2 separate regions of the Homo sapiens genome follow, and region 2 is linked to region 1. Evidence: fine-mapped expression QTL. A gene starts in region 1. The other region holds a variant in brackets. All regions are shown on one strand. Distances are between the middles of the regions. Region 1 holds the start of CD163 (CD163 molecule). Region 2 has its middle 53 kb from the start of CD163.

Region 1 (15,709 bases):
TTTGAAGGGACACAGATGAAGCTAGAAACCATCATCCTCAGCAAACTAACACACAAGAACAGAAAACCAAACACTGCATGTTCTCACTCATAACTGGGAGTTGAACAATGAGAACACACGGACACAGGGAGGGGAACATCACACACTGGGGCCTGTCAATGGGTGGGGGGAAAGGGGAGGGAGAGCATTAGGACAAATACCTAATGCATGGGGGGTTAAAACCTAGATGACAGGTTGATACGTGAAGCAGACCACCATGGAACATGTTTACCCATGTAACAAACCTGCACATTCAACACATCTATCCCAGAACTTAAAGTAAAAAAATAAGTAAATTAAAAAAATTTAAAAACAGATTCCTAGGAAATTTTGTCTCTCTGAGCTCCAGGTAGATTCTGAGTTTGAAGTGTGCTCCATAAAAGCAGTCTGAGTAATTATTACAGAGAATGCCGTCAGACAACCTTCCAAACTAGTTGAATAAAGAATGTGTCAAAGATTACAGGTATAAAGGAATTCCCAGCAAGGAATTTACTAGGCATTTCTACTTCTTAAGGAGCACGTTCCTACTCTTAAGGAGCACAGGACTTTCCGTTTCTGCTTTTCTTTTTGTTTAGTGTTTTGGTTTTGGTTTGGTTTTAACTTACCAGAACATGTCACGCCAGCATCTTCATTGTGATTGCAATAATGCTTTCCCCATTCATGGTGTTTACATTGCCAGATAGCAGGTTCATGTCCCTGGCAAGAAACGCTGTCAAGCCAGATGTGTCCAAATCCCTTACTGGCGTTAACTCGACCAATGGCTGTGACGGCAGTTGGACATCCCAGTTGCTTGCATGCCACAGCAGCATCGTAACTGTCCCAGCCGTCATCACATATTGTCCCCCATTCTCCTTGGAATCTCACTTCTAATCTTCCTGAACATTCAGTGACTCCATCTACCAGTCTCAGGCTCAGATCTGCTCCCTCTGTAACAGAGACACACAACAGGTCTGCGATAAGGAAGCAAGAACATGAGACTATAAATAGCTATACCTGAGATGAGTTAAGGAAAAGGGGAGAGATATAAGTGGAGACAGAGAAAACTGTGATGTACTGTACTACCACTGGAAATCATTCAAGATGGAAGGAGGAGTGGATCAGGCAAGAAGATGGGACATCTCAGTATAGACAGCATATACTACAGGAAGTGTTTCTAACAGGAGATACAGGGACTGAATTTCATCTAGAGACCTGCTATTTGACCACCACAGAGTTCTTGTTAGAACTGTTTACTTTTTCTGGTTAAAATATATTTGCATGTGTTTAGGTGACTCCCTCATCCTTCAGTTTGCCTCCATACTTAGCAATCCCTTTTGCCTCTGACTGCATTCTCCATTGATACTACCTAGCCTGTGTTGTACACCTGAACCTGTTGTGACCACTTCCTTAGTTTAAAAGCAGAGCAAAGAGAAAGGAGGCTTCAGTACTACAATTTTCACCTTCCCCAAATCAATATTCTTCAAAGAACAGACGTTGATTCTGAAGAATATTCTGTAATAAATTAAACTGGTTGTTTCCTCTGGCAGTTTCCGTTTTCATTCCCACAATGTTATTCATTGTGGGATTGTGATTCGTCAGCATGTGCTAACTGGGGGCCTAGAGAAATGTTGATGGGTAAAAGAGAATGGAAGGTACAGTCTGTGTTTTTTCTACTCCAAATTCTTCACATTCTTAACCTAACAAAATCTATCTTTCTTGTAGGAGTTCCATTCATTGTGGTTCAGGCTATAGCTGATCACATTGTTCAACAAGAAAAAGCTTGTTCAAGACATGCAGAAAGAGATAGAACCCAGATGACATTGTTCAAGAACCTGAATCCAACCATGCATGAGGCTAACTATACCCTCTGGATTTCCCAGTTTTGTGAGCCAGTATTCTCTTCTTTTTAAACAAGTTTGAATGGAAGTTCCTTTATTTACACACACACACACACACACACAGAGAGAGAGAGAGAGAGAGAGAAAGGGATCTGGTGAAGATAGGGATTTTTTACTCTTATTTTCCTAAGTGTTCTCTGGGGTTCAAGACACACTCAATCTCCTTTTATACTAAGAATTCAACAGAAAAACGAAGAGTGGTATCTCTGCACACACAAACGATTTTCCCCGCCCCCAGTCTGAGTATACAACGTGAAAGTCTCTAGACAGATACAATGCATATCTAGTATAAATAAAGTTTTAATGAGAAACCAATATTGATTTTTAACAAGTGATTCGATTCTGTGAACTTGAAAAATGATTTGGGAAGGAGTGGGTTAATGAGGCTAATGAGGAGGCTTTTGTGGATTAGATGATAACTGGAGTGGTTTGGTCATAAAACTTCATAGTGCAAAATATCCTAGTAAAGCCCTTCCTTCTTTCCTTTTTCCCCTCTTTTTCTTTTCGGTCTCTCCCTTTCTTTATGGGCTTTTCCTAAACACTTTCTTCTTTTCTTATGACCTGGATCTCAGTTTCACTATGCACTTCCCTAACCTATTTCTCCTAATTTCAGTTAAGGTAAAAAGTCCACAGGTATCAGAACTGGAACCTGAAGTTAGGTTAAAATGCGGTGACAAAAGAAGCAGACTTCATTATGTTCTTAAGAGTTCAGGCTCTTAAGATTTATTACCCCTTTCTTTTGTCCTCTCCTGGAGAATAGAATGAGCCAAGATCAGTCCTTACTTGAGCAAATCACTCCAGCATCCTCAGCATGATCACAGTTATGCTTTCCCCATCCTTGATGTTTGCAGTTCCAGAGAGCTGACTCATTTCCGTTGCATATAAGATCATCAAACCAGATTGGTCCAGAGCCTTCTCCAAAATTAGATGAACCAGAGAAACTGACAGCACTTCCACATTCAAGTTGTCTACAAATGACAGATGCATGATCTATGTTGAAGTTATCATCACACACTGTTCCCCACCGTCCTTGGAATTTGATCTCTATTCTTCCAGAACACATATTCCCTCCACGCGTCAGCCTCATTTCCAAATTGGATCCATCTGGAGCAGAGAAAAGACCAGAGTTCAGAAGTTACATTCATTTAGAAGTGATTTTAGAAAAGAAGTTTCCTCTGGACACTTGGGATTTTATGTTGTCCTTAAAATGGTGCCTGATTTTGGACATTGCCCAGCTCCACACGGTAGAGAATTTTAATATGTTAAAATCTAGGAAGCAATTAGGATTTTTATCTATATCTACTTACAAAGGAAAATGTTTACAGGTTAAAGTTTTTAAACTTTCTGTTTTGTTTTGTTTCCATCTATTACTAGGACAGATGTAAATACTCTTTTTTGTACAGAAATAGATAAATTCGACTCAAGTTATTTAAATTTGACTCAGGTTAAAGCTTTAAGTGTATAAATTTCAAAAAGCAAATTGATTAACTCCACTGGTAGTTATAAAACAACAGAAAAAAAGAGCTAAAAGTACTACACTGTTTTAGCTAAACAGCCAGTTCTATACACAGCAATAATTATGATAAGAGCCTGCTAAAATTTATGATAATTTTAAACTTTGCAGTAGATGTTACTTTTGTTATTCCCCATTTCACACCTCCCATAGTGGTTAAAAATAAGAGGAAAGAAGGAGGAGAAGGAGGAGAAGGAAGAGGAAGAGGAAGCGGAGAAAGAAGAAAGAGAACTGAGTCACCAAGAGAACTGAGCCATGAGGATCTTCAGCACCTGTTACATACCAAACAGTGTACCAGTAGTTTTACATGTATTATATCATTGAATCCTCAGAAACTGAAGTTTAGAGAGATTTGACAACTTGCACAAAATCACAGGATATTAGCTATGTGAAAATTTATTTCAGCATTTTTCTAGATGCTACTGTGTGTTTCTCTTATCACATCATGATGCCTGGACAGAGATAAGTCCTTTCTATAGTCAGTCCTATGGGAGAGAGAGAGGCTGGGAGGTGAGAGGATTGTATAAAAATTAATGAAACAGGCCAGTCACGGTGGCTCACACCTGTAATCCCAGGATTTTGGGAGGCCGAGGCAGGTGGATCACCTGAGCTCAGGAGTTCGAGACCAGCCTGGCCAATATGGTGAAACCCTGTCTCTACTAAAAATACAAAAATCAGCCAGGTGTGGTGGCAGGTGCCTATAATCCCAGCTACTCGGGAGACTGAGGCAGGAGAATTGCTTGAACCCGGGAGGTGGAGGTTGCAGTGAGCCGAGATAGCGCCATCGCACTCCAGCCTGGGGGACAAGAGCGACAATTCGTCCCAAAAAAAAAAAAAAAAAAAAGGAATGAAACAAACAAAAAGAAATGGGGATCCCAGGAATCTGAGTTGGATCAGAAATGTGCCCTTGGGATTTGTCAGCAGAAAGGCCTGACACATGACTTTCTCAGTTATTGTGGGGTCAATTGCAATAAAACATATGGAGATGTTTTGTAAATTAAAAGCACAATGTAAATGAAATGACTAGCATTGCACACTGGTCAAGCAATTATACTTTCAAAGAATCCTTCCTACAACAAGAAATGATGTATTAATGCTAGAAATAGTTGTTTTTTGATTTACTAAGTTGATTATCAGTTAATGGACAAAATGGTAATAATTTGTGGGTCAACATATCAAAACAAGTCACTGGGAAAGAACAAGGAAATAACTTAGATGTCATGATATTTTTATGATATAGGAATAGTAGGTTACAGTAAGCTTACTGAATATCAAATTTAAACCACCACTTCTTGGCTTTTTGGCTAAGATCATGTATAAAATTGAAGCCAGTCACCTCCTCATTAATCACAGTGTTCAGAATTTTTTTTATTAAAAAAAAATGACCTCGTGTTTTGTGGTTTTCTAGCAATGGATGGAGTACTTTTATACATGAACTAGATTGCTTACAGGAAAGTGGCTTATTCTAGGTTTTAACCCATCTACATATTTTTTTCCCACCAAGGATTTTGTGTTGAGGCTTTGACTAATGCAAGTCTTACCTGAGCAGGTCACTCCAGCATCTTGTTGGTGAGTACAGTTACTATGCTTTCCCCATCCATCATGTTTGCAATCCCAAAGAGCTGACTCATTCCCACGACAAGAAACATGATCCATCCAAATGCGTCCAGAACCTGCACTGGAATTAGCCCATCCAGGGGCTTTGATAGCAGTTGGACATCCCAGCTGGTTACAAATCACAGAGACCGCTTCCATGCTCCAGCCATTATTACACACCGTTCCCCACTCCTCCTGGACTTTCACTTCCACTCTCCCGCTACACTTGTTTTCACCATCCACTAGCCTCAGCTCCTTGTCTGTTCCTCCTGCAACAATGGATTAAGACAGTAATTGGCCAAGGTCGCAAAGAGCAAGTAGAAAATTATTTTTTTACATTACTTATTTATCCTTCAAACTCAGATTTGAGAACCATCCTAGTCCTATCCATGGTAAAACAGAAGAATGTTATTTCACAGTCATTCAAATATAAGTATCAGTATCACTGGTTTCAAATTAAGCAGTGCTATATGACCAGTAAAGGTAAGTAACACAATAGTGTTTAATAGCTTTATTTTATGGCTGGATAGCCTTAATAGTGGCAATTTATATAATTCCTGTGAAGCATTTTCGAGTTAAATAAGATGCTACAAAACGTTATGGGGATGAACTTTTTACATTTCTCCAAAATCCTAAGGTCGATAGAAAGAAGGCTGATAGAGAATTTATGAAGATGAAAAGACTAGTTGTAAGAAATTTAACTCTTATTTCATACGTATATGTAAAATAGCATAAATCTTAAAAACGCTAGACTGAAACTTATCTAAAATTAAGATGGAGATATTTTCTGCTATTTTCTACCATAAAATAAACCTCTTTGTACTCTCTTCCCATCCCCAGATGATAGATGATCTCAGTTGCCTCCTTGGCATTATTTTAGCTTTATGTAGGAATCTGGTCCCACCAACCTGGCATCTCTCAATACATTTTTAGATAAATTTTGGCATTTGAATTTACTAATGTGTTTCCCAAATTCACTTTTGTTTTAATGATTCTGAAGTTTCTCCTCCTTTGTATTCTTTCCTATTTTTCAGTTCAACATTATTTCTAATCTTTAAGTAAAATTCATTTCTCTCCTGTGAGTTTATTTCATTTGGTGAGGAACCATGCTAATATTTTGGTTAGATTTTTATTGTGTGCTTTTAATAATATCTGATCCTTTGAATACATGGAGCATGTCACCTAGTTTTTAGATGCTACTTGGCCTTCAGAAAAATTGTTTGCCTTTTAACTGTTCTTGTCAGAGTGGGCTAAGGCTGTAAGTAAATTTGACAAAGTACTCACCAAGAGAACTGGTGACAAAACAGGCACTGAGAAGTAAGACCACAGTAATGGTGAAGGGACTCAAGTTGACAAAATGTCTTCTGAAGTCTGTGAAAAAGAAAAGAGGGCAAAAGTAGCATCTTCCCAAAAAGAGACTTTGGAGAAGATAGATGGTTTCAGAGGTTAATTAACAAAGAAGCTCAAACCAAGACAGAAAACTCTTCATTCTAAATTGCAAGGCAGGCAGAAAACATTCATACCCAGGCTCATATAGTTTCAGTGAAATGGTTTTGAAAATGTTCATGTTTATAGGCAACCTAGAGGTGACGGATTAGCAGAAGGTTGGTGGTGGAAACGAGAATTGCAAGGTCAACCCTTAAAACCTGGAAAATGGAAACAACATCAATGAAACTTAGTAGTGGACAATTCTCCCAGCAGGCACAGGGAAGGTATCCTGAGATTTCTCTATTCCCTAACCACCTTGATATTCAATTATGGATGCCCCCATCTTTAAGACTACCTAGCCGCACTGATAGAGGATAAGTTCCATGAGTAAACGAATTATATCTATCATGTTCACCATAATTTCACCAGTACCTGGCTTGATGCTTGCCAAATAGTAGCTAGCAGAACAATACCTAAGTGATGATATCCATATCTGAAAAACTCAAATATTAAATCTTGTCATCTCTACCTGTATCCTTATCACATAATACACTCTTTAATGCTGTTATTACTCTCATATCTTCTCGTTACTCTAACCCAACACTAATTTAAAACTAAAAATGCTAAATGATTTTAACATGTCCAAATAAGTCTTAAAATAGATAACTCACTTATCAGAGTAGATAACTTTCTTTATGTAATTAACTCTCTATCAATATTCCTTTCTGCATATTCTATCTTTTCTAACAACTATTTTTTCATACTCAGTACATTTCAGTTAACTTTAGTTCCTGACTTAATTTCACCTCAGCAGTTTTACAAAATTAATGCCGACTCTGATTCCCATATCACATCTTCAATTTTGAATCTATGGCAGATCAAAGGTGCTGCCATATAAGCCTATGTCCTTTTTCCACTCCTTACTCTCCTGATGCCAATCACTTTTAAATCACATCCATTGACTGTCATAATAATTACATACCCCATTAAAGGGGAAATGTAGAATAAATGAGAAGCTTTTACCAGCAGATCCAGAGTCTTCAAGTAGCACCATTCTGAGTTTGCTCATTCCAAAGATTTATAACTTCAATGATTCCTAAATCTTCTTGTATTATTCCCTAGAAATGTTCTTCTAAAGAAAACAACTAAGAATTCTAAAAATCACTTCACTTTCATGAAAATGAAAAGGCTACATATGGAGGCGGAGTCAACTCAAAAAGGGAAGTCATTGAAAGAGCTGAGGTTCCATTTCATACTCATGTTTTCTTCAATATAGCACATGAAACAACCAAAGGAAATTGGGAAACACTTCCCACAGATTTCGAAAAATTAGAGGAAATACTAACTCATATGCTGCTGTTGCTGAATTAAATATTTTACATTTTTGAACTTCATTTTGGACAAATATATAAGACACAAAAAATTACTAATTGTCATGTAGAAAAATTATGTAAAAAACTAAAGCAAAACAGGCAAAACATAATTAAATAACATTTTATCATATGCACTTTTAATTTTATTTCCATAATCAAATGTGTCTAATGAGTAATTTTGTGTAAGTTGTTGAGACACAGCATTTGTCATTTCTTTTCTAATGGGATGAAGTACACCAAGAGAATTAGCCATGACTATTACTGATATTACAAATGGTGAAACAAAAATTAGCAACACATGATTTTAGCTCTATATAACTCAGATTCAAGTAAGAGAAACACATATGATAACAACAATGAACATAAAGCTAAAGTGCAGTGTTAAAAATAATGGACAAAGTAGTCCTATCTATTGAGAGAAAGGAATGAACAGTCAGAAAACTATTTTCTCTGAGGACAGGCTTAAATTGTGTCCTAAAAGATGAGAAAAACATTGCCAAAGGGACAAATGATAAAGGAGTTTAAGGCATAAAAAATAGCACATACAAATGAATATTTGTATATAAAAACATATAAGCTCAAAAGAACTACTAATAGTTCATCATGGCATACATATTGTCAGGTGTTAGTGATGGGCCTGAAATGGGGAATTAAAGAGCAACTCCAGCCTTCCAGAGAGACATTCACTAGAACCCAGTCAACAAAGGCACCCCAGTTTTCTTCCACTTCTCAGGCATGCCAAATCTCTCCCTGCCTCATGGTATGTCATACATATTGTTCCTTCTGTGTTTACTGCCTCCCTACCCGTACCTTTCTCTAAGATAACTCTCACTCACGTATACTTTATTTCTCAGTTAAACCTCCCTTCACTAGGAGAAATAACTCTAACGCTGAAAGACCCCAGAAAATATGCACTCATGATAGCCTGTACTTATGAGGGTTGTCAATTATATATATATTTTTTTCCTTTTTTTAAATTATTATTATACTTTAAGTTTTAGGATACATGTGCACAACATGCAGGTTTGTTACGTATGTATACATGTGCAATGCTGGTGTGCTGCACCCATTAACTCGTCATTTAGCATTAGGTATATCTCCTAATGTTATCCCTCCCCCCTCCCCTGACCCCACAACCGTCCCTGGAGTGGGATGTTCCCCTTCCTGTGTCCATGTGTTCTCATTGTTCAATTCCCACCTATGAGTGAGAACATGTGGTGTTTGGTTTTTTGTCCTTGCGATGGTTTGCTGAGAATGATGGTTTCCAGTTTCATCCATGTCCCTACAAAGGACATGAACTCATCATTTTTTATGGCTGCATAGTATTCCATGGTATATATGTGCCACATTTTCTTAATCCAGTCTATCATTGATGGACATTTGGGTTGGTTCCAAGTCTTTGCTATTGCGAGTAGTGCCGCTATAAACGTACGTGTGCATGTGTCTTTATAGCAGCATGATTTATAATCCTTTGGGTATATACCCAGAAATGGGATGGCTGGGTCAAATGGTATTTCTAGTTCTAGATCCCTGAGGAATTGCCACACTGACTTCCACAATGGTTGAATTAGTTTACAGTCCCACCAACAGTGTAAAAGCATGCCTATTTCTCCACATCCTCTCCAGCACCTATTGTTTCCTGACTTTTTAATGATCACCATTCTAACTGGTGTGAGATGGTATCTCGTTGTGGTTTTGGTTTGCATTTCTCTGATGGCCAGTGATGATGAGCATTTTTTCATGTGTTTTTTGGCTGCATAAATGTCTTCTTTTGAGAAGTATCTGTTCATATCCTTCGCCAATTTTTGATGGGGTTGTTTGTTTTTTTCTTGTAAATTTGTTTGAGGTCATTGTAGATTCTGGATATTAACCCTTTGTCAGATGAGTAGGTTGCGAAAATTTTCTCCCATTTTGTAGATTTCCTGTTCACTCTGATGGTAGTTTCTTTTGCTGTGCAGAAGCTCTTTAGTTTAATTAGATCCCATTTGTCTATTTTGGCTTTTGTTGCCATTGCTTTTGGTGTTTTAGATATGAAGTCCTTGCCCATGCCTATGTCCTGAATGGTATTGCCTAGGTTTTCTTCTAGGGTTTTTATGGTTTTAGGTCTAACATGTAAGTCTTTAATCCATCTTGAATTAATTTTTGTATAAGGTGTAAGGAAGGGATCCAGTTTCAGCTTTCTACATATGGCTAGCCAGTTTTCCCAGCAACATTTATTAAATAGGGAATCCTTTCCCCATTGCTTGTTTTTGTCAGGTTTGTCAAAGATCAGATGGTTGTAGATATGCGGCATTATTTCTGAGGGCTCTGTTCTGTTCCATTGATCTATATCTCTGTTTTGGTACCAGTACCATGCTGTTTTGGTTACTGTAGCCTTGTAGTATAGTTTGAAGTCAGGTAGCGTGATGCCTCCAGCTTTGTTCTTTTGGCTTAGGATTGACTTGGGGATGTGGGCTCTTTTTTGGTTCCATATGAACTTTAAAGTAGTTTTTTCCAATTCTGTGAAGAAAGTCATTGGTAGCTTGATGGGGATGGCATTGAATCTATAAATTACCTTGGGCAGTATGGCCATTTTCATGATATTGATTCTTCCTACCCATGAGCATGGAAGGTTCTTCCATTTGTTGGTATCCTCTTTTATTTCATTGAGCAGTGGTTTGTAGTTCTCCTTGAAGAGGTCCTTCACATCCCTTGTAAGTTGGATTCCTAGGTATTTTATTCTCTTTGAAGCAATTGTGAATGGGAGTTCACTCATGATTTGGCTCTCTGTTTGTCTGTTATTGGTGTATAAGAATGCTTGTGATTTTTGTACATTGATTTTGTATCCTGAGACTTTGCTGAAGTTGCTTATCAGCTTAAGGAGATTTTGGGCTGAGACGATGGGGTTTTCTAAATATACAATCATGTCATCTGCAAACAGGGACAATTTGACTTCCTCTTTTCCTAATTGAATACCCTTTATTTTCTTCTCCTGCCTAATTGCCATGGCCAGAACTTCTAACACTATCTTGAATAGGAGTGGTGAGAGAGGGCATCCCAGTCTTGTGCCAGTTTTCAAAGGGAATGCTTCCAGTTTTTGCCCATTCAGTACGATATTGGCTGTGGGTTTGTCATAGATAGCTCTTATTATTTTGAGATACGTCCCATCAATAATTTATTGAGAGTTTTTAGCATGAAGCGTTGTTGAATTTTGTCAAAGGCCTTTTCTGCATCTATTGAGATAATCATGTGGTTTTTGTTTTTGGTTCTGTTTATATGCTGGATTACATTTATTGATTTGAGTATGTTGAACCAGCCTTGCATCCCAGCGAAGAAGCCCACTTGATCATGGTGGATAAGCTTTTTGATGTGCTGCTGGATTTGGTTTGCCAGTATTTTATCGAGGATTTTTGCATCAATGTTCATCAAGGATATTGGTCTAAAATTCTCTTTTTTGGTTGTGTCTCTGCCAGGCTTTGGTATCAGGATGATGCTGGCCTCATAAAATAATGAGTTAGGGAGGATTCCCTCTTTTTCTATTGATTGGAATAGTTTCAGAAGGAATGGTACCAACTCCTCCTTGTACCTCTGGTAGAATTTGGCTGTGAATCCACCTGCTCCTGGACTTTTTTTGGTTGGTAAGCTATTGATTATTGCCACAATTTCAGAGCCTGTTATTGGTCTATTCAGAGATTGAATTTCTTCCTCGCTTAGTCTTGGGAGGGTGTATGTGTCGAGGAATTTATCCATTTCTTCTAGATTTTCTAGTTTATTTGCGTAGAGGTGTTTGTAGTATTCTCTGATGGTAGTTTGTATTTCTGTGGGATCGGTGGTGATATCCCCTTTATCAATTTTTATTGCGTCTATTTGATTCTTCTTTCTTGTCTTCTTTATTAGTCTTGCTAGCAGTCTATCGATTTTGTTGACGTTTTCAAAAAACCAGCTCCCAGATTCATTAATTTTTTGAAAGGTTTTTTGTGTCTCTATTTCCTTCAGTTCTGCTCTGATTTTAGTTATTTCTTGCCTTCTGCTAGCTTTTGAATGTGTTTGCTCTTGCTTTTCTAGTTCTTTTAATTGTGACGTTAGGGTGTCAATTTTGGATCTTTCCTGCTTTCTCTTGTGGGTATTTAGTGCTATAAATTTCCCTCTACACACTGCTTTGAATGTGTCCCAAAGATTCTGGTATGTTGTGTCTTTGTTCTCGTTGGTTTCAAAGAACATCTTTATTTCTGCCTTCATTTCATTATTTACCCAGTAGTCATTCAGGAGCAGGTTGTTCAGTTTCCATGTGGTTGAGCAGTTTTGAGTGAATTTCTTAATCCTGAGTTCTAGTTTGATTGCACTGTGGTCTGAGAGACAGTTTACTATGATTTCTGTTGATGCAGTTTCTTCCTAGCCTTGATAGTCTTTACATTTTGTCATGTTTTGGCAGTGGCTGGTACCAGTTGTTCCTTTCTATGTTTAGTGCTTCCTTCAGGAGCTCTTTTAGGGCAGGCCTGGTGGTGACAAAATCTCTCAGCATTTGCTTGTCTATAAAGTTATTTCTCCTTCACTTATGAAGCTTAGTTTGGCTGGATATGAAATTCTGGGTTGAAAATTCTTTTCTTTAAGAATGTTGAATATTGGCCCCCACTCTCTTCTGGCTTGTAGAGTTTCTGCCGAGAGATCCGCTGTTAGTCTGATGGGCTTCCCTTTGTGGGTAACCCGACCTTTCTCTCTGGCTGCCCTTAACATTTTTTCCTTCATTTCAACTTTGGTGAATCTGACAATTATGTGTCTTGGAGTTGCTCTTCTCGAGGAGTATCTTTGTGGTGTTCTCTGTATTTCCTGAATCTGTATGTTGGCCTGCCTTGCTAGATTGGGGAAGTTCTCATGGATAATATCCTGCAGAGTGTTTTCCAACTTGGTTCCATTCTCCCCATCACTTTCAGGTACACCAATCAGACGTAGATTTGGTCTTTTCACATAGTCCCATATTTCTTGGAGGCTTTGTTTGTTTCTTTTTATTCTTTTTTCTCTAAACTTCCCTTCTCACTTCATTTCATTCATTTTGTCTTCCATCACTGATAACCTTTCTTCCAGTTGATCGCATTGGCTCCTGAGCCTTCTGCATTCTTCACGTAGTTCTTGAGCCTTGGCTTTCAGCTCCATCAGCTCCTTTAAGGACTTCTCTGCGTTGGTTATTCTAGTTATCCATTCATCTATTTTTTTTTCACAGTTTTTAACTTCTTTGCCATTGATTTGAATTTCCTCCTGTAGCTCGGAGTAGTTTGATCATCTGAAGACTTCTTCTCTCAGCTCGTCAAAGTCATTCTCCATCCAGCTTTGTTCCATTGCTGGTGAGGAGCTGCATTCCTTCGGAGTAGGAGAGGCACTCTGCTTTTTAGAGTTTCCAGTTTTTCTGCTCTGTTTCTTCCCCATCTTTGTGGTTTTATCTACTTTTGGTCTTTGATGATGATGATGTACAGAAGGGTTTTTGGTGCAGATGTCCTTTCTGTTTGTTAGTTTTCCTTCTAACAGTCAGGACCCTCAGCTGCAGGTCTGTTGGAGTTTGCTGGAGGTCCACTCCAGACCCTGTTTGCCTGTGTATCAGCAGCAGTGGCTGCAGAACAGCAGTGGCTGTAGAAGAGCGGATCTTGGTGAACTGCAAATGCTGCTGCCTGATTGTTCCTCTGGAAGTTTTGTCTCAGAGGAGCACCCGGCCATGTGAGGTGTCAGTCTGCTCCTACTGGGGGATGCCTCCCAGTTAGGCTGCTCGGGGGTCATGGACCCACTTTAGGAGGCAGTCTGCACATTCTCAGATCTCCAGCTGCGTGCTGGGAGAACCACTACTCTCTTCAAAGTTGTCAGACAGGGACATTTAAGTCTGCAGAGGTTACTGCTGTCTTTTTGTTTGTCTGTACCCTGCCCCCAGAGGTGGAGCCTACAGAGGCAGGCAGGCCTCCTTGAGCTGTGGTGGGCTCCACCCAGTTCGAGGTTCCCAGCTGCTTTGTTTACCTAATCGAGCCTGGGCAATGGCAGGCGCCCCTCCCCCAGCTTCGCTGCTGCCTTGCAGTTTGATCTCAGACTGCTGTGCTAGCAATCAGTGAGACTCCATGGGTGTAGGACCCTCCGAGCCATGTGCGGGATATAATCTCCTGGTGTGCTGTTTTTTAAGCCCATTGGAAAAGCGCAGTATTAGGGTGGGAGTGACCTGATTTTCCAGGTGCCCTCTGTCACCCCTTTCTTTGACTGGGAAAGGGAACTCCCTGACCTCTTGCGCTTCTCTAGTGAGGCAATGCCTCGCCCTGCTTCGGTTTGTGCACAGTGCGCTGCACCCACTATCCTGCACCCACTGTCTGGCACTCCCTAGTGAGATGAACCCAGTACCTCAGATGGAAATGCAGAAATCACACGTCTTCTGCGTTGTTCACACTGGGAGCTGTAGACCGGAGCTGTTCCTATTTGGCCATCTTGGCTCCACCCCTCCCAATTATATTTTTATATTTATTGTTTATCTTACTTGCTAGTCTTAAGATACCAGGATAGGAACTGTGTTTTTTTCAAAAAGATATCTACCAGTCCCTGCCAGATGCTAGGCTCAATATTACCTATTTTGTTGTTGTTGTTGACAATGTTGTTATTATTGCTGAGGTAAACAAGGACTACATGAAGAGGAGTTTTATATACCATGTTAAAGAATTATAATTTTACACTGTAGGCAAGTAATGACATTAAATAGTTTGAAACATGAGTATTAAATTGCTTTGTCTTTTACATATCTCATCTTGGTAGCAACTTTGAGGATGATTGGTGGCCAGGGTAAAAATGGAAATAAGAGCAAGATTAAATGCAGTGCAAGTGAATATTATAGCAAAAATCTAATAGAATAAGAGCCCGATTGAAAAGATATAGTAGAAAAATGGAAGAAATAGATTGGTGCAAAATTAAAAAGCTAGGTGAACAAGACATTTTTGCTTTTATTCAAAATGAAGAAACAGGAAGTGTGTTTACTGTCCCACCAGAAACAACTAAAAACAAAGCCAAACATGTGTAACAATGATTTTCAAGACACTGAAAATGAGGCAACAAGAAGAGTTGTTGCCTGGATCTCAAAGATAGTGATCCATGAGAGATGAGAAGCTAAGCTGAGTTTACTGCCTTGAGATAGTTTCCAGGCTACCATGGAATAGGAAACCCAGAGAATGATCAGAGGAGTCTCAGAGTTGGGAAGAAGCAGCTGAGAATCTGGGAGACTAAGGTGGCTAGAATTCACAGCAAATAGTCTCACAGAGGAGAAACTTGCAAGAAGAAAGAGAGAGAGAGAGAGAGTAGGGAGGAGGCAAGGAGAGAGAGCTGAATATCTGTAGAGTCCCCTTTGAGTATTCAGCTGAGTATTGTTAAGTGCATGCATGTGAGCAAATCACCTGAGCCTGGGGAAAGAATAATGAAAGGATTAGAGTTACACACAGGGCCAGGAAAAGTGACTGTTCACATGGAAAACTCACAAGTCATGGGGTATTGGGTAGAGTTCACAGATGAGTCTTACCACAGTGGTGGGAAATAAGTAGCCCTAGCTACTTGCTGATTAGATCCCACCTAACAAATTTTAAAGACAAGACCCAAAGAATCAAATTGTTTCCAAGAATATAACAACATTCTAGACTAAACGTTAGAATATCTAAAGCAATAAAAATAATTTAAAACTCAGCGAAGTTTAGTTTACAATGTCTGGAATTAAACAAAATATTACTTAGTGCTATGGTCTAAATGTTTGTGTCTCCTCAAAATTCATATGTTGAAATCCTAACCTCAAAGGTATTAGTAGGTAGGGCCTTTGGGAGATAATTAGGTCATGAGGGCTCTGCCTTCATGAATGGGGTTATTGCCCTCATGAAAGAGATCCCTGAGAGAAGACTGATCCC
Region 2 (15,709 bases), 53 kb after region 1:
CCATCTGACAAAGGGCTAATATCCAGAATCTACAAGAAACTTGAACAAATTTACAAGAAAAAAACAAACAACCCCATCAAAAAGTGGGCCAAGGATATGAACAGACACTTCTCAAAAGAAGACATTTATGCAGCCAGCAGGCATATGAAAAAATACTCCTCATCACTCGTCATCAGAGAAATGCAAATCAAAACCACGATGAGATACCCTCTCATGCCGGTTAGAATGACAATCAGTAAAAAGTCAGGAAACAACAGGTGCTGCACAGGATGTAGAGAAATAGGAACACTTTTACACTTTTGGTGGGAGTGTAAATTAGTTCAACCATTGTAGAAGATAGTGTGGTGATTCCTCAAGGATCTAGAACTAGAAATACCGTTTGACCCAGTGATCCCATTACTGTGTATATACCCAAAGGATTATAAATCATGATACTACAAAGACACATGCACACATATGTTTATTGCAGCACTATTCACAATAGCAAAGACTTGGAACCAACCCAAATGTTCATCAATGATAGACTGGATTAAGAAAATGTGGCATATATACACCATGGAATACTATGCAGCTGTAAAAAAGGATGGTTTCATGTCCTTTGCAGGGACATGGATGAAGCTGGAAACCATCATTCTCAGCAAACATCACAAGGACAGAAAACCAAACACCACATGTTCTCACTCATATGTGGGAGTTGAACAATGAGATCACTTGGACACAGGGCAGGAAACATCACACACCAGGGCCTGTCAGGGGTTGGGGGTCTGGGGGAGGGATAGCATTAGGAGAAATACCTAATGTAAATGATGAGTTGATGGATGCAGCAAACCAACATGGCACATGTATACCTATGTAACAAACCTGCACATTGTGCACATGTACCCTAGAACTTAAAGTATTAAAAAAGAAAGAAAACAAGAAAATTTAAGTCTATGCAAAACCTGCACATGGATGTTTATAGCAGCTCTAGTCATCACTGCCAAAATTTAGAGGCATACAAAATGTCCTAGATGAATGTATAAATGAACTCGGGTACATTCAATCAATGGAATTGTATTAGTAGGTGAATGAATAAAGGGACTTGGATATATTCAATCATTGGAATTTTATCAGCACTTAAAAGAAATGTGTTACCAAGTTATGGAAAACATAGAGAAACTTTAAGTGTATATTACTAAGTAAAAAAGTCCATATAAAAAGTAAAAAAAAAAAAAAAAGAAATGGTAAATGCTTGAGGTGATGGATATTCCATATATCTTGTTATGTTTATCATGCATTGTATGGCTGTATCAAAATATCTCATGCACCCCATAAATATATACACATACTATGTACCCACAAAAAGTAAAAATTAAAAAAAAAAAAGAGGCTGAACCTGCCTGCCTGTTTTCTTCCTCTCTCACCATGTGATCTCTTCACACTGCTCTCCTTAGCCTTCCCCCATGAGCAGAAGTAGCTTGAGGCTGTCATCAGATGAAGATGCTCAAGGTTTCTGGCCACCATGAGAATTGTGAGCCAAATAAACTCTTTTTCTTTTAAAAAGAAAGAAAAAAAGAAAACACCTTTTAAATCTCCAATTATATTTGAGGCTTATATTATCATTAACTCCCCAAAGCACTAAATCTTAGTCCTGAGAATGTAGGAAACCTTATAGTTTAGAAGATACTCCTTGAGAAGAGCAACTCCAAGACACATAATTGTCAGATTCACCAAAGTTGAAATGAAGGAAAAAATGTTAAAGGCAGCCAGAGAGAAAGGTTGGGTTACCCACAAAGGGAAGCCCATCAGACTAACAGCTGATCTCTCAGCAGAAACTCTACAAGCCAGAAGAGAGTGGTGACCAATATTGAACATTCTGAAAGAAAAGAATTTTCAACCCAGAATTTCATATCCAGCCAAACTAAGCTTCATAAGTGAGGGAGAAATAAAATACTTTACAGACAAGCAAATGCTGAGAGATTTTGTCACCACCAGGCCTGCCCTAAAAGAGCTCCTGAAGGAACCACTAAACATGGAAAGGAACAAGTGGTACCAGCCACTGCAAAAACGTGCCAAATTGTAAAGAACATCAATTCTAGGAAGAAACTGCATCAACTAATGAGCAAAATAACCAGCTAACATCATAATGACAAGATCAAATTCACACATAACAATATTAACTTTAAATGTAAATGGGCTAAATGCTCCAATTAAAAGACACAGACTGGCAAATTGGATAAAGAGTCAAGACCCATCAGTGTGCTGCTTTCAGGAGACCCATCTCATGTGCAGAGACACACATAGGCTCAAAATAAAGGGATGGAGGAAGATCTACCAAGCAAATGGAAAACACAAAAAGGCAGAGGTTGCAATCCTAGTCTCTGATAAAACAGACTTTAAACCAGCAAAGATCAAAACAGACAAAGAAGGCAATTACATAATGGTAAAGGGATCAATTCAACAAGAAGAGCTAACTATCCTAAATATATATGCACCCAATACAGGAGCACCCAGATTCATAAAGCAAGTCCTTAGTGACCTACAAAGAAACTTAGACTCCCACACAATAATAATGGGAGAATTTAACACCCCACTGTCAACATTAGACAGATCAACGAGACAGACAATTAACAAGGATACCCAGGAACTGAACTCAGCCGTGCATCAAGCAGACCTAATAGACATCTACAGAACTCTCCACCCCAGATCAAAAGAATATACATTCTTTTCAGCACCACACCACACCTACTCCAAAATTGACCACATAGTTGGAAGTAAAGCACTCCTCAGCAAATGTAAAAGAACAAAAATTATAACAAACTGTCTCTCAGACCACAGTGCAATCAAACTAGAACTCAGGATTAAAAAAACTCACTCAAAACCACTCAACCACATGGAAACTGAACAACCTGCTCCTGAATGACTACTGGGTAAATAATGAAATGAAGACAGAAATAAAGATGTTCTTTGAAACCAATGAGAACAAAGATACAACATACCAGAATCTCCAGGACACATTCAAAGCACTGTGTAGAGGGAAATTTATAGCACTAAATGCCCACAAGAGAAAGCAGGAAAGATCTAAAATTGACACCCTAACATCACAATTAAAAGAACTAGAAAAGCAAGAGCAAACACATTCAAAAGCTAGCAGAAGGCAAGAAATAACTAAGATCAGAGCAGAACTGAAGGAAATACAGACACAAAAAACCCTTCAAAAAATTAATGAATCCAGGAGCTGGTTTTTTGAAAAGATCAACAAAATTGATAGACCACTAGCAAGACTAATAAAGAAGAAAAGAGAGAAGAATCAAATAGATGCGATAAAAAATGATAAAGGGGATATCACGAATGATCCCACAGAAATACAAACTACCATCAGAGAATACTATAAATACCTCTATGCAAATAAACTAGAAAATCTAGAAGAAATGGATAAATTCCTGGACACATACATCCACCCAAGACTAAACCAGGAAGAAGTTGAATATCTGAATAGACCAATAACAGGCTCTGAAATTGAGGCAATAATCAATAGCTTACCAACCAAAAAAAGTCCAGAACCAGACGGATTCACAGCCGAATTCTACCAGAGGTACAAAGAGGAGCTGGTACCATTACTTCTGAAACTATTCCAATCAATAGAAAAAGAGGGAATCCTCCCTAACTCATTATTTTATGAGGCCAGCATCATCCTGATACCAAAGCCTGGCAGAGACACAACCAAAAAAGAGAATTTTAGACCAATATCCTTGATGAACATTGATGCAAAAATCCTCAATAAAATACTTGCAAACCGAATCCAGCAGCACATCGAAAAGCTTATCCACCATGATCAAGTGGGCTTCATCCCTGGGATGCAAGGCTAGTTCAACATACCCAAATCGATAAATGTAATCCAGCATATAAACAGAACCAAAGACAAAAACCACATGATTATCTCAATAGATGCAGGAAAGGCCTTTGACAAAATTCAACAACGCTTCATGCTAAAAACTCTCAATAAATTATTGATGGGACGTATTTCAAAATAATAAGAGCTATCTATGACAAACCCACAGCCAATATCATCCTGAATGGGAAAAACTGGAAGCATTCCCTTTGAAAACTGGCACAAGACTGGGATGCCCTCTCTCACCACTCCTTTTCAACATAGTGTTGGAAGTTCTGGCCAGGGCAATCAGGCAGGAGAAGGAAATAAAGGGTATTCAATTAGGAAAAGAGGAAGTCAAATTGTCCCTGTTTGCAGATGACATGATTGTATATCTAGAAAACTCCATCATCTCAGCCCAAAATCTCCTCAAGCTGATAAGCAACTTCAGCAAAGTCTCAGGATACAAAATCAACGTACAAAAATCACAAGCATTCTTATACACCAATAACAGACAAACAGAGAGCCAAATCATGAGTGAACTCCCATTCACAATTGCTTCAAAGAGAATAAAATACCTAGGAATCCAACTTACAAGGGATGTGAAGGACCTCTTCAAGGAGAACTACAAACCACTGCTCAATGAAATAAAAGAGGATACCAACAAATGGAAGAACATTCCATGCTCATGGGTAGGAAGAATCAATATCATGAAAATGGCCATACTGCCCAAGGTAATTTATAGATTCAATGCCATCCCCATCAAGCTACCAATGACTTTCTTCACAGAATTGGAAAAAACTACTTTAAAGTTCATATGGAACCAAAAAAGAGCCCGCATTGCCAAGTCAATCCTAAGCCAAAAGAACAAAGCTGGAGGCATCACGCTACCTGACTTCAAACTATACTACAAGGTAACAGTAACAAAAACAGCATGCTACTGGTACCAAAACAGAGATATAGACCAATGGAACAGAACAGAGCCCTCAGAAATAATGTGGCATATCTACAGCTATCTGATCTTTGACAAACCTGACAAAAACGAGCAATGGGGAAAGGATTCCCTATTTAATAAATGGTGCTGGGAAAACTGGCTAGCCATATGTAGAAAGCTGAAACTGGATCCCTTCCTTACATCTTATACAAAAATTAATTCAAGATGGATTAAAGACTGACATGTTAGACCTAAAACCATAAAAACCCTAGAAGAAAACCTAGGCAATACCATTCAGGACATAGGCATGGGCAAGAACTTCATGTCTAAAACACCAAAAGCAATGGCAACAAAAGCCAAAATAGACCAATGGGATCTAATTAAACTAAAGAGCTTCTGCACAGCAAAAGAAACTACCATCAGAGTGAACAGGTAACCTACAGAATGGGAGAAAATTTTTGCAACCTGCTCATCTGACAAAGGGCTAATATCCGGAATCTACAATGAACTCAAACAAATTTACAAGAAAAAAACAACCCCATCAAAAAGTGGGCAAAGGATATGAACAGACACTTCTCAAAAGAAGACATTTATGCAGCCAAAAAACACATGAAAAAATGCTCATCGTCACTGGCCATCAGAGAAACGCAAATCAAAACCACAAGGAGATACCATCTCACACCAGTTAGAATGGCGATCATTAAAAAGTCAGGAAACAACAGGTGCTGGAGAGGATGTGGAGAAATAGGAATGCTTTTACACTGTTGGTGGGACTGTAAACTAGTTCAACCATTGTGGAAGTCAGTGTGGCAATTCCTCAGGGATCTAGAATTAGAAATACCATTTGACCCAGCCATCCTATTACTGGGTATATGCCCAAAGGATTATAAATCATGCTGCTATAAAGACACATGCACACGTACGTTTATAGCGGCACTATTCACAATAGCAAAGACTTGGAACCAACCTAAATGTCCAACAATGATAGACTGGATTAAGAAAATGTGGCACATATATACCATGGAATACTATGCAGCCATAAAAAATGATGAGTTCATGTCCTTTGCAGGGACATGGATGAAGCAGGAAACCATCATTCTCAGCAAACTATCGCAAAGACAAAAAATCAAACACCACATGTTCTCACTCATAGGTGGGAATTGAACAATGAGAACACATGGACAGAGGAAGGGGAACATCACACACCGGGGACTGTTGTGCGGTGGGGGAAGGGGGGAGGGATAGCATTAGGAGATATACCTAATGCTAAATGACGAGTTAATGGGTGCAGCACACCAGCATGGCACATGTATACCTATGTAACAAACCTGCACGTTGTGCACATGTACCCTAAAACTTAAAGTATAATAATAATGAAATTTAAAAAAAGAAAAATAAAAAATAAAAAATAAAAAAAGAATTTACTATCTTATTTGGAGACTAGGCAATTACAAATGATGTTATGAGATTTACACAAAGAATGATATTATGAATATATATAAAAAAGAACCTATTAACTCTGCTCTTGGTACTCTAATTGAAGGTTCACAACAAATTCCAGTTCAATAATGTCAGATATTCTTATTTTAAATACTTATATAAGTAAATAAGTGATACAGAAAAAAAAAACCTGTAGGTATTTAAGCAGGGGATAGTATTACATTATAAATTGCCCTCAGAGTCCCTCTCAAATGGTGGTTTCACTGCATTTCCAAAAGTGTCTTCTAAACCATGGTGGGTTTTTTTTGTTGTTGCTTTGGGTTTTTTTTTGGCTTTAGTAACTGAATTATTTCATGGTCCAAGTGGCACACAATAAGAAGTTCAATCTTCAATGCACTTTAAATCCAAGAATTTAAAGTTAAAAGAACAACAAAGCAGGATATAAAGACTATTTAAAAAGTAGGTCCAGTAAATAGTGACGAAATTAGAATGACTGAAGTCGGGGGAAAGCACAGACTGATCAGATTACAGAGACTGCTTAGGACATGAGAATGTTTCCTTTAGTGTTAAAAATAGAAACAGGATATGAGGCAGGAGTGGAGCCCAGTTGTAGTGATCAGGCAAAAATATAGGACAAAATGTCACACCTCTTGGTTCATCAAAATGCTGGTGCTATGCTTGTATAAGAAAGCAGGATTGCCACCGTAAGTTTGTAATTTCAATAATGGCAAAAGTGAAAGAATATTCAGGAGAGAAAACGGGAATTGCAGAAGTCTTTTTACTTCTTCAAAATCATAAAGTCTAGAAACTATGTATCAAAGTTATAAAAAATTAGACCTTTAAAAATTAAGAAGTCACTTTAAAAATCAGATATTAGGGCTGGGCGCGGTGGCTCACGCCTATAATTCCAGCACTTTGGGAGGCCAAGGCGGGCGGATCGCCTGAGGTCAGGAGTTTGAGACCAGCCTGGCCAACATGGTGAAACCCCGTCTCTACTAAAAATACAAAAATTAGCCGAGTGTGATGGCGCATGCCTGTAAATCCCAGCTACTCCGGAGGCTGAGGCAGGAGAACAGCTTGAACCCTGGAAGCGGAGGTTGCAGTGAGCTGAGATCACGCCACTGCACTCCAGCCTGGGCGACGGAGTGAGACTCTGTCAAAATAATAATAATAATAAGATATTAAACATGAAAAAGGAAAATATAGCTTCAGGAGCAAAGAAGCACAAATACCAAATTCTAACATATAAAAGAAAAAAATAAAGAAAACTAAGGCCTTTGCAGAAGTCAAGCCAATCCTGTCTACTAACAATCGCAGAGGACCCATTCTTTACCCAGGGCATATGCTGTGCATTTTCAGGCACATGGCCTCCTTTCATCTTGCCAGGCACTTTATAAAATCATTAATAATTTCTGCATCTTGCAGATAAGAAAACTGAGGCTTAAATAAGTTAAATGCTGTACTCAACATTGTATTATGTAGAAGAACAAGGATTGAAACAGTGACACTTTGACTCCATGCCCATTTTCCTTTCCATTTAAACATATTCTGATAGGATTAGAAAACTCTTTATAAAAAGATCCCAGAAAACTTTATGGCAAAGAAAAGCAAATTGCACAATGAATTTTCATCATGAAGAACACAATCTCAGAGACCAGAAACTTTCATTTAGTCTGAAGAAAAAAAATGTAAACTCTAAGCAAAACTTAAATCCAGAGTAAAAGTGCCAGTACAAATGGGCAAAGAGAATGTAGTGGGCTTCAGAAATATTTGTATCATTTCTTTATTGTCAATGCTCCAGATGGAAGAATGTTACCACTTATTTATAGTATAGAATCTTTTCTCCTATTCTCTGTAGAAAAAAAAAGGAGTAATATGTCAGATAACAACCAAATTTATTCTTTCTATTAAATTCCAAAAGTGGTATGTGAGATTTATGGTCATCCTTGTTAAGTTTCTTTAAAGCTTATGAGCATAGAGATGAGTGTTTTCATAACGG[T/A]TTTTTAAAGGAAGAGCGTAATGTGCTTCCCTTTTTTAAAGGCAGCTGCTTGCAAAACCCAGAAACAGTACATCCAGTTACTTGCTGAAAACCTCAGCCTTTTACATCCACAATAAAAATTGAGTACAAAATGTACAAAGCATAGATTTTCCCCATGTGATTATTATTAAATCCTTAATTCAAAAATATTTAAGAATTTATTAATAGGCATCGATCCTAAGGAAGCAAGTGAACAAGATACATATGCAGAGTTATTTATAGTAGTGAAAATTTTGAAATAAATGTGTATCCAATAAGAGAATAAAATTTTCAATAAAATTTAGGACATCAATTCAACAGACTATTATGCAGCTATTAAAAATGATAATGACACTCTAGGTGCTGATATAGAAAATCAGTATTATTTTATAAGTTAGAAAGGAAGGTTGCAGAACATTAAAATATATAATTACATTTTACAAATACCTACACATATTTATATTTTTACATATATCTATATATATATTAAAAGGTCTGAAATGATAAAAATTGAATTATACTTTACTTATTTCTGACTGACCTGTACTATATATTTTATTTTATATTAAAAGTAAAGAAATAACTTTTTAAAATAGCATATGGCTCCCTATGTGTAATTTATCAGGGGAATATGGTTACGTTTGAAACACAGAAAGACAACCAGAAGGAGAATAAAAAATAAAATGAAAAGCAAAGTGTGTATTCCAAGTGGTTATGAAATCTCCCGATATCTAAAGTTAATCTTTAGTTTAGCTGGGCACAGTGGCTCACTGTAATCCCAGCATTTTGGGAGGCCAAGGCAGGAGGATTGCTGAGGCCAGAAGTTTGAGATCAGCCTGGCCAATACAGTGAGACCCCATCTCTACAAAATATAGAAAAATTAGCCAGGTGTGGTGCTGTGTGCCTGTAGTCCTAGCTATTTAGGCAGCTGAGGTGGGAAGATTGCTTGAACCCAGGAGTTCAAGGCTGCAGTGAATCATAATTGTGCCACTGCACTCCAGCCTAAGTGACAGAGCAAGAGCCTGTCTCAAAAAAAAAAAAAAAAAAAACCCACCACCAAGAATAACACAACAACAAACCAAAACAACAACAACAAAAGTCTTCAGTTTAATAGTAAATTATCTGTAATTTGAGTCCTTATCCTGTGGTCCTGCAGAGAACTCAGTCCTTCTGCCTAGAATCTCCAAAACTCTCCCGTGAATGTTTACATGATTTGGTCACTTCTCAAAGTATCCCTTCTCCCTTCTCTAGGACCACCTCTGTTCTCTTATACATTTTTCTTCCTAATATTGCTGCTAATAACCTTTCATGAAGATTTAAAGAATTCATTAGGAAAGCAAGAGAAAACAGAAAACTTAAAAGTGAATATCAGATAATCCTTGCCCTGTGACCATTAATACTGCCCTGTTATAGAGGTTCTTTAGTGGAGAACCAACAACTCCCTTTTTAGCCCCAACCTTCTCATGTTTCTGGGACTTGCTTCTACTCAAAGCAGAGGTCTCTCTCTGTTATTACATATTTACCATGGCCCCTACAAGTAAAAATATAATAATCTGTCATTATTTAATATATAGTAACCTCAACACCAATAAAAAATAATCATTTTGCTTTATTTTGCAGAGCTTTTCCCCCTAGTTTTGGCTAAGTGTTTTAACACCTGGCATAATCGAGGGTAATTGAGGAGTTCTCCCAAACAAAAGAGCCCCTAAACATGTCTTCTGCAATTCCTAAATGTTGAAGTAACTAGGAACAGCTTATAAATCAGTAATGTTTTGTGGTATGTGGTACAGGAGTAATTCAAGAAAAATGATAAGGGCCTGAATTAATGCAAGGGCACATTAAGAGAAGACAGTTAATAGATATTAGAATAAAGAAGTAAATAAATTTGGTTAATGGATGCAGGCACTAATGGAGTGGTGTAGATGACTTCCAGATTTTCTGCCAAGCAAATAGGTTGGAGAAGATCAGAGGGATCTTCAATGTGGTTACAAATACTGGTACACAAGTTTTTGGGTACACAAGTGTTTTAGAGTTCAATATGAATTTGAGATTATTCTGAAAAAGCTAATCCTCAGGTGTCTGGCATTATGGGGAGGCACTGAAAAAAGAAAGTAAAAATCTTCAGAGAATGGATAAGAAAAGAGAAGAATCATTCATACATTTCATGTCTTACCAATAAATTCGACATACAAGTAGGCAGAAAAACGAGTGCCCAACAATAATAACAAAAGTCAGTTGATAAAAAGGAAAAATGTGGCAGGTAAGTTAAAAAGACATTTGTTATTGAAGAAAAGTGGCTTATTATTCTGTGACAGTTTTTATGAACAGGACAAATGACATCTATCATTTTGACCATCAAATCAAGAATGTGACTTAGATGCTGGGAGAAAAATTGTTAGAGAGCCAGTATGAGCAACAATTCAAGAAATATGCCAAGATGGATGGCTATGTAAGTCTGAATGGGGTATTTCTGGGGACTGATTCTAATTCAGATTGGAGCTCAGCTTTAATCCTTTCTCCACTCCATAAACAAAATTAAAAAGGCAACCTGAAACAGAAAGTAAAATCTCTTGGAAGAACTTTGTTAATCTAAGTATAATTAGACATTACAAGATATAAATGGGTAAAATCCATGTATTACCAATATAGATCCTGTCACATACATGAAAAGGATGTTAATGGCAACACCACCAATTTTCAGTGTTCAGGGCAAAATTCTCGGGGTCATCCTTGATCCCTCTCTTACTTCCATGTTCCATATCCAATTCTTCAGGAAATCCCATTTGCACCACTTCCAAAATACATCTACATCCATTGACATCATCCTGATCAGGGTCACCATCATCCCCTGCCTGGAATCCCACTCCAGCCTCCTAACTACTTTTGCCTTTCCTAAGTATCTATTCTCATCAAGATAACCAGGGTAAACTTTTTAAATTTTATGTCAGATCATGTTACTGGTTAATTCAAAACCCTTCAAAGGGTCCCTATCTCATTCAGAATAAAAGCTGTTACTTAAAATGGCCAGTCTATAGGGAAGTAACCAGCTCACCCCACGACTACCACCACTCTCCTCACCTCTCTGAATCTTCTTTGACTATTTCCCTATCTATTAATATCCACCCACACTGGCCATCTTGCTGTTCTCAAGCACCCCACTTTTAGTCCTGATTTAGGGCTTTTGCATTGGCTGTTCCCTTTTCCTTGAATATTGTTCCCCAAATAGCCACCTGGCTAATGCGAAAAATGTTAAGGGCAGCCAGAGAGAAAGGTCAGGTTGCCTGCAAAGGGAAGCCCATCAGACTAAGGCAGATCTTTCTGCAGAAACCCTACAAGCCAGAAGAGAGTGGGGGCCAATATTCAACATTCTTAAAGAAAGAATTTTCAACCCAGAATTTCATATTCGGCCAAAGAAAGTTTCATAAGTGAAGGAGAAATAAAATCTTTTACAGACAAGCAAATGCTGAGAGATTTTGTCACCATCATGCCTACCTTACAAGAGCTCCTGGAGAAAACACTAAAAATGGACAGGAACAACCAGTACCAGCCACTGCAAAAACATGACAAATTGTAAACAACATCAATTCTAGGAATAAACTGCATCAACTAACGAGCAAAATAACCAGCTAACATCATAATGACAGGATCAAATTCACACATAACAATATTAACCTTAAAAGTAAATAGGCTAAATGCCCCAATTAAAAGACACAGACTGGCAAATTAGATAAACAGTCAAGACCCATCAGTGTGCTGCTTTCAGGAGATCCATCTCACGTGCAGAGACACACATAGGCTCAAAATAAAGGGATGGAGGAAGATCTACCAAGCAAATGGAAAACAAAAAAAAGCAGGGGTTGCAATCCTACTCTCTGATAAAACAGACTTTAAACCAACAAAGATCAAAACCAGACAAAGAAGGCCATTACATAATGGTAAAGAGATCAATTCAACAAGAAGAGCTAACTATCCTAAATATATATGCACCCAATACAGGAGCACCCAGATTCATAAAGAAAGTCTTTAGAGACCTACAAAGAGACTTAGACTCCCACACAATAATGATGAGAGACTTTAACACCTCACTGTCAACATTAGACAGATCAATGAGACAAAAAGTTAACAAGGATATCCAGGTCTTGAACTCAACTCTGCACCAAGCAGACCTAATAGACATCTACAGAACTCTCCACCCCAAATCAACAGAATATACATTCTTCTCAGCACCACATTGCACTTATTCCAAAATTGACCACATAGTTGGAAGTAAAGCACTCCTCAGCAAATGTAAAATAACAGAAATCATAGCAAACTGTCTCTCAGACCACAGTGCAATCAAACTAGAACTCAGGATTAAGAAACTCACTCAAGGCCAGGCGCGGTGGCTCACGCCTGTAATCCCAGCACTTTGGGAGGCCGAGGCGGGTGGATCATGAGGTCAGGAGATCGAGACCATCCTGGCTAACAAGGTGAAACCCCGTCTCTACTAAAAATACAAAAAATTAGCTGGGCGCGGTGGCGGGCGCCTGTAGTCCCAGCTACTCGGGAGGCTGAGGCAGGAGAATGGCGTGAACCCGGGAAGCGGAGCTTGCAGTGAGCCGAGATTGCGCCACTGCAGTCTGCAGTCCGGCCTGGGCGACAGAGCGAGACTCCGTCTCAAAAAAAAAAAAAAAAAAAGAAACTCACTCAAAACTGCTCAACTACACGGAAACTGAACAACCTGCTCCTGAATGACTACTGGGTACATAACAAAATGAAGGCAGAAATAAAGATGTTCTTTGAAACCAATGAGAACAAAGACACAACATACCAGAATCTCTGGGACACATTTAAAGCAGTGTGTAGAGGGAAATTTATAGTACTAAATGCCCACAAGAGAAAGCAGGAAAGATCTAAAATTGACACCCTAACATCACAATTAAAAGAATAGAGAAGCAAGAGAAAACATATTCAAAAGCTAGGAGAAGGCAAGAAATAATTAAGATCAGAGCAGAACTGAAGGAGATAGAGACACAAAAAACCCTTCAAAAAATCAATGAATCCCAGAGCTGTTTTTTTTTAAAAGATTAACAAAATAGGCCACTAGCAAGATGAATAAAGAAGAAAAGAGAGAAGAATCATATAGATGCAATAAAAAATGATAAAGGGGCTATCACCACTGATCCCACAGAAACACAAACTACCATCAGAGAATACTATAAACACCTCTATGCAGATGAACTAGAAAATCTAGAAGAAATGGATAAATTCCTGAACACATAACACCCTCCCAAGACTTAAACTAGGAAGAAGTTGAATCCTGGAACAGACCAATAACAGGCTCTGAAATTGAGGCAATAATTAATAGCCTACCAACCAAAAAAAGTCCAGGATCAGACAGATTCACAGCCGAATTCTACCGGAGATACAAAGAGGAGCTGGTATCATTACTTCTGAAACTATTCCAATCAATAGAAAAAGAGGGAATCCTCCCTAACTCATTTTGTGAAGCCAGCATCATCCTGATACCAAAGCCTGGCAGAGACACAACAAAAAAAGAGAATTTTAGACCAATAACCCTGATGAACATCGATGCAAAAATCCTCAATAAAATACTGGCAAATGGAAACCAGCAGCACATCAAAAAGCTTATCCACCATGATCAGGTGGGCTTCATCCCTGGGATGCAAGGCTGGTTCAACATACACAAATCAATAAACGTCATCCATCACATAAACAGAACCAAAGACAAAAAACACATGATTATCTCAATAGATGCAGAAAAGGCCTTTGACAAAATTCAACAGCCTTTCATGCTAAAAACTCTCAATAAACTAGGTATTGATGGGACGTATCTCAAAATAATAAGAGCTATTTATGGCAAACCCACAGCCAATATCATACTGAATGGGCAAAAACTGGAAGAATTCCCTTTGAAAACTGGCACAAGACACGGATGCCCTCTCTCACCACTCCTATTCAACATAGTGTTGGAAGTTCTGGCCAGGGCAATCAGGCAGAAGAAAGAAATAAAGGGTGTTCGATTAGGAAAACAAGAAGTCAAATTGCCCCTGTTTGCAGATGACAGGATTGTATATTTAGAAAACCTTATTGTCTTAGCCCAAAATCTCCTTAAGCTGATAAGCACCTTCAGCAAAGTCTCAGGATACAAAATCAGTGTGCAAAAATCACAAGCATTCCTATACACCAATAACAAACAGCCAAATCATGAGTGAACTCCCATTCACAATTGCTTCAAAGAGAATAAAACACCTAGGAATACATCTTACAAGGGATGTGAAGGACCTCTTCAAGGAGAACTACAAACCACTGCTCAATGAAATAAAAGAGGACACAAACAAATGGAATAACATTCCATGCTCATGGATAGGAAAAATCAATATCGTGAAAATGGCCATACTGCCCAAGGTAATTTATAGATTCAATGCCATCCCCATCAAGCTACCAATGACTTTCTTCACAGAATTAGAAAAAACTACTTTAAAGTTTATATGGAACCAAAAAAGAGCCCGCATTGCCAAGACAACCCTAAGCCAAAAGAACAAAGCTGGAGGCATCACGCTACCTGACTTCAAACTATACTACAAGGCTACGGTAACCAAAACAGCATGGTACTGGTACCAAAACAGAGATATAGACCAATGGAACAGAACAGAGCCCTCAGAAATAATACCACACGTCTACAACCATCTGATCTTTGACAAACCTGACAAAAACAAGAAATGGGGAAAGCATTCCCTATTTAATAAGTGGTGATGGGAAAACTGGCTAGCCATATGTAGAAAGCTGAAACTGGATCCCTTCCTTACATCTTATACAAAAATTAATTCAAGATGGATTAAAGACTTACATGTTAGACCTAAAGCCATAAAAACCCTAGAAGAAAACCTAGGCAATACCATTCAGGACATAGGCATGGGCAAGGACTTCATGTCTAAAACACCAAAAGCAATGGCAACAAAAGCCAAAATTGACAAATGGGATCTAATTAAACTAAAGAGCTTCTGCACAGCAAAAGAAACTACCATCAGAGTGAACAGGCAACCTACAGAATGGGAGAAAATTTTTACAATCTACCCATCTGACAAAGGGCTAATATCCAGAATCTACAAAGAACTTAAACAAATTTACAAGAAAAAAACAAACAACCCCATCAAAAAGTGGGCAAAGGATATGAACAGACACTTCTCAAAAGAAGACATTTATGCAGCCAACAGACACATGAAAAAATGCTCATCATCACTGGCCATCAGAGAAATGCAAATCAAAACCACAATGAGATATCATCTCACACCAGTTAGAATGGCAATCATTAAAACGTCAAGAAACAACAGATGCTGTACAGGATGTGGAGAAATAGGAACAGTTTTACACTGTTGGTGGGACTGTAAACCAGTTCAACCATTGTGGAAGACAGTGTGGCAATTCCACAAGGATCCAGAACTAGAAATACCATTTGACCCAGCCA

What was found.
Region 2: its variant is fine-mapped to the expression of CD163 in whole blood (TOPMed, PIP 0.98).

Annotation. Positions count from the first base shown.
Region 1 is chr12:7,496,169-7,511,877 of GRCh38, forward strand. CD163 (CD163 molecule) reads right to left here and starts at 7,609. Exons shown (of 17, transcript NM_203416.4): 1 at 7,477-7,609; 2 at 6,310-6,396; 3 at 4,971-5,294; 4 at 2,700-3,020; 5 at 645-965. The coding sequence starts at 7,522. RefSeq lists an enhancer at 1,380-1,881.
Region 2 is chr12:7,549,177-7,564,885 of GRCh38, forward strand. No RefSeq gene overlaps it. Among named protein-coding and RNA genes, the nearest start is that of CD163, 53 kb to the left of the region's middle. RefSeq lists a silencer at 8,164-8,364. The variant T/A (reference allele first, on the strand shown) is at 8,224.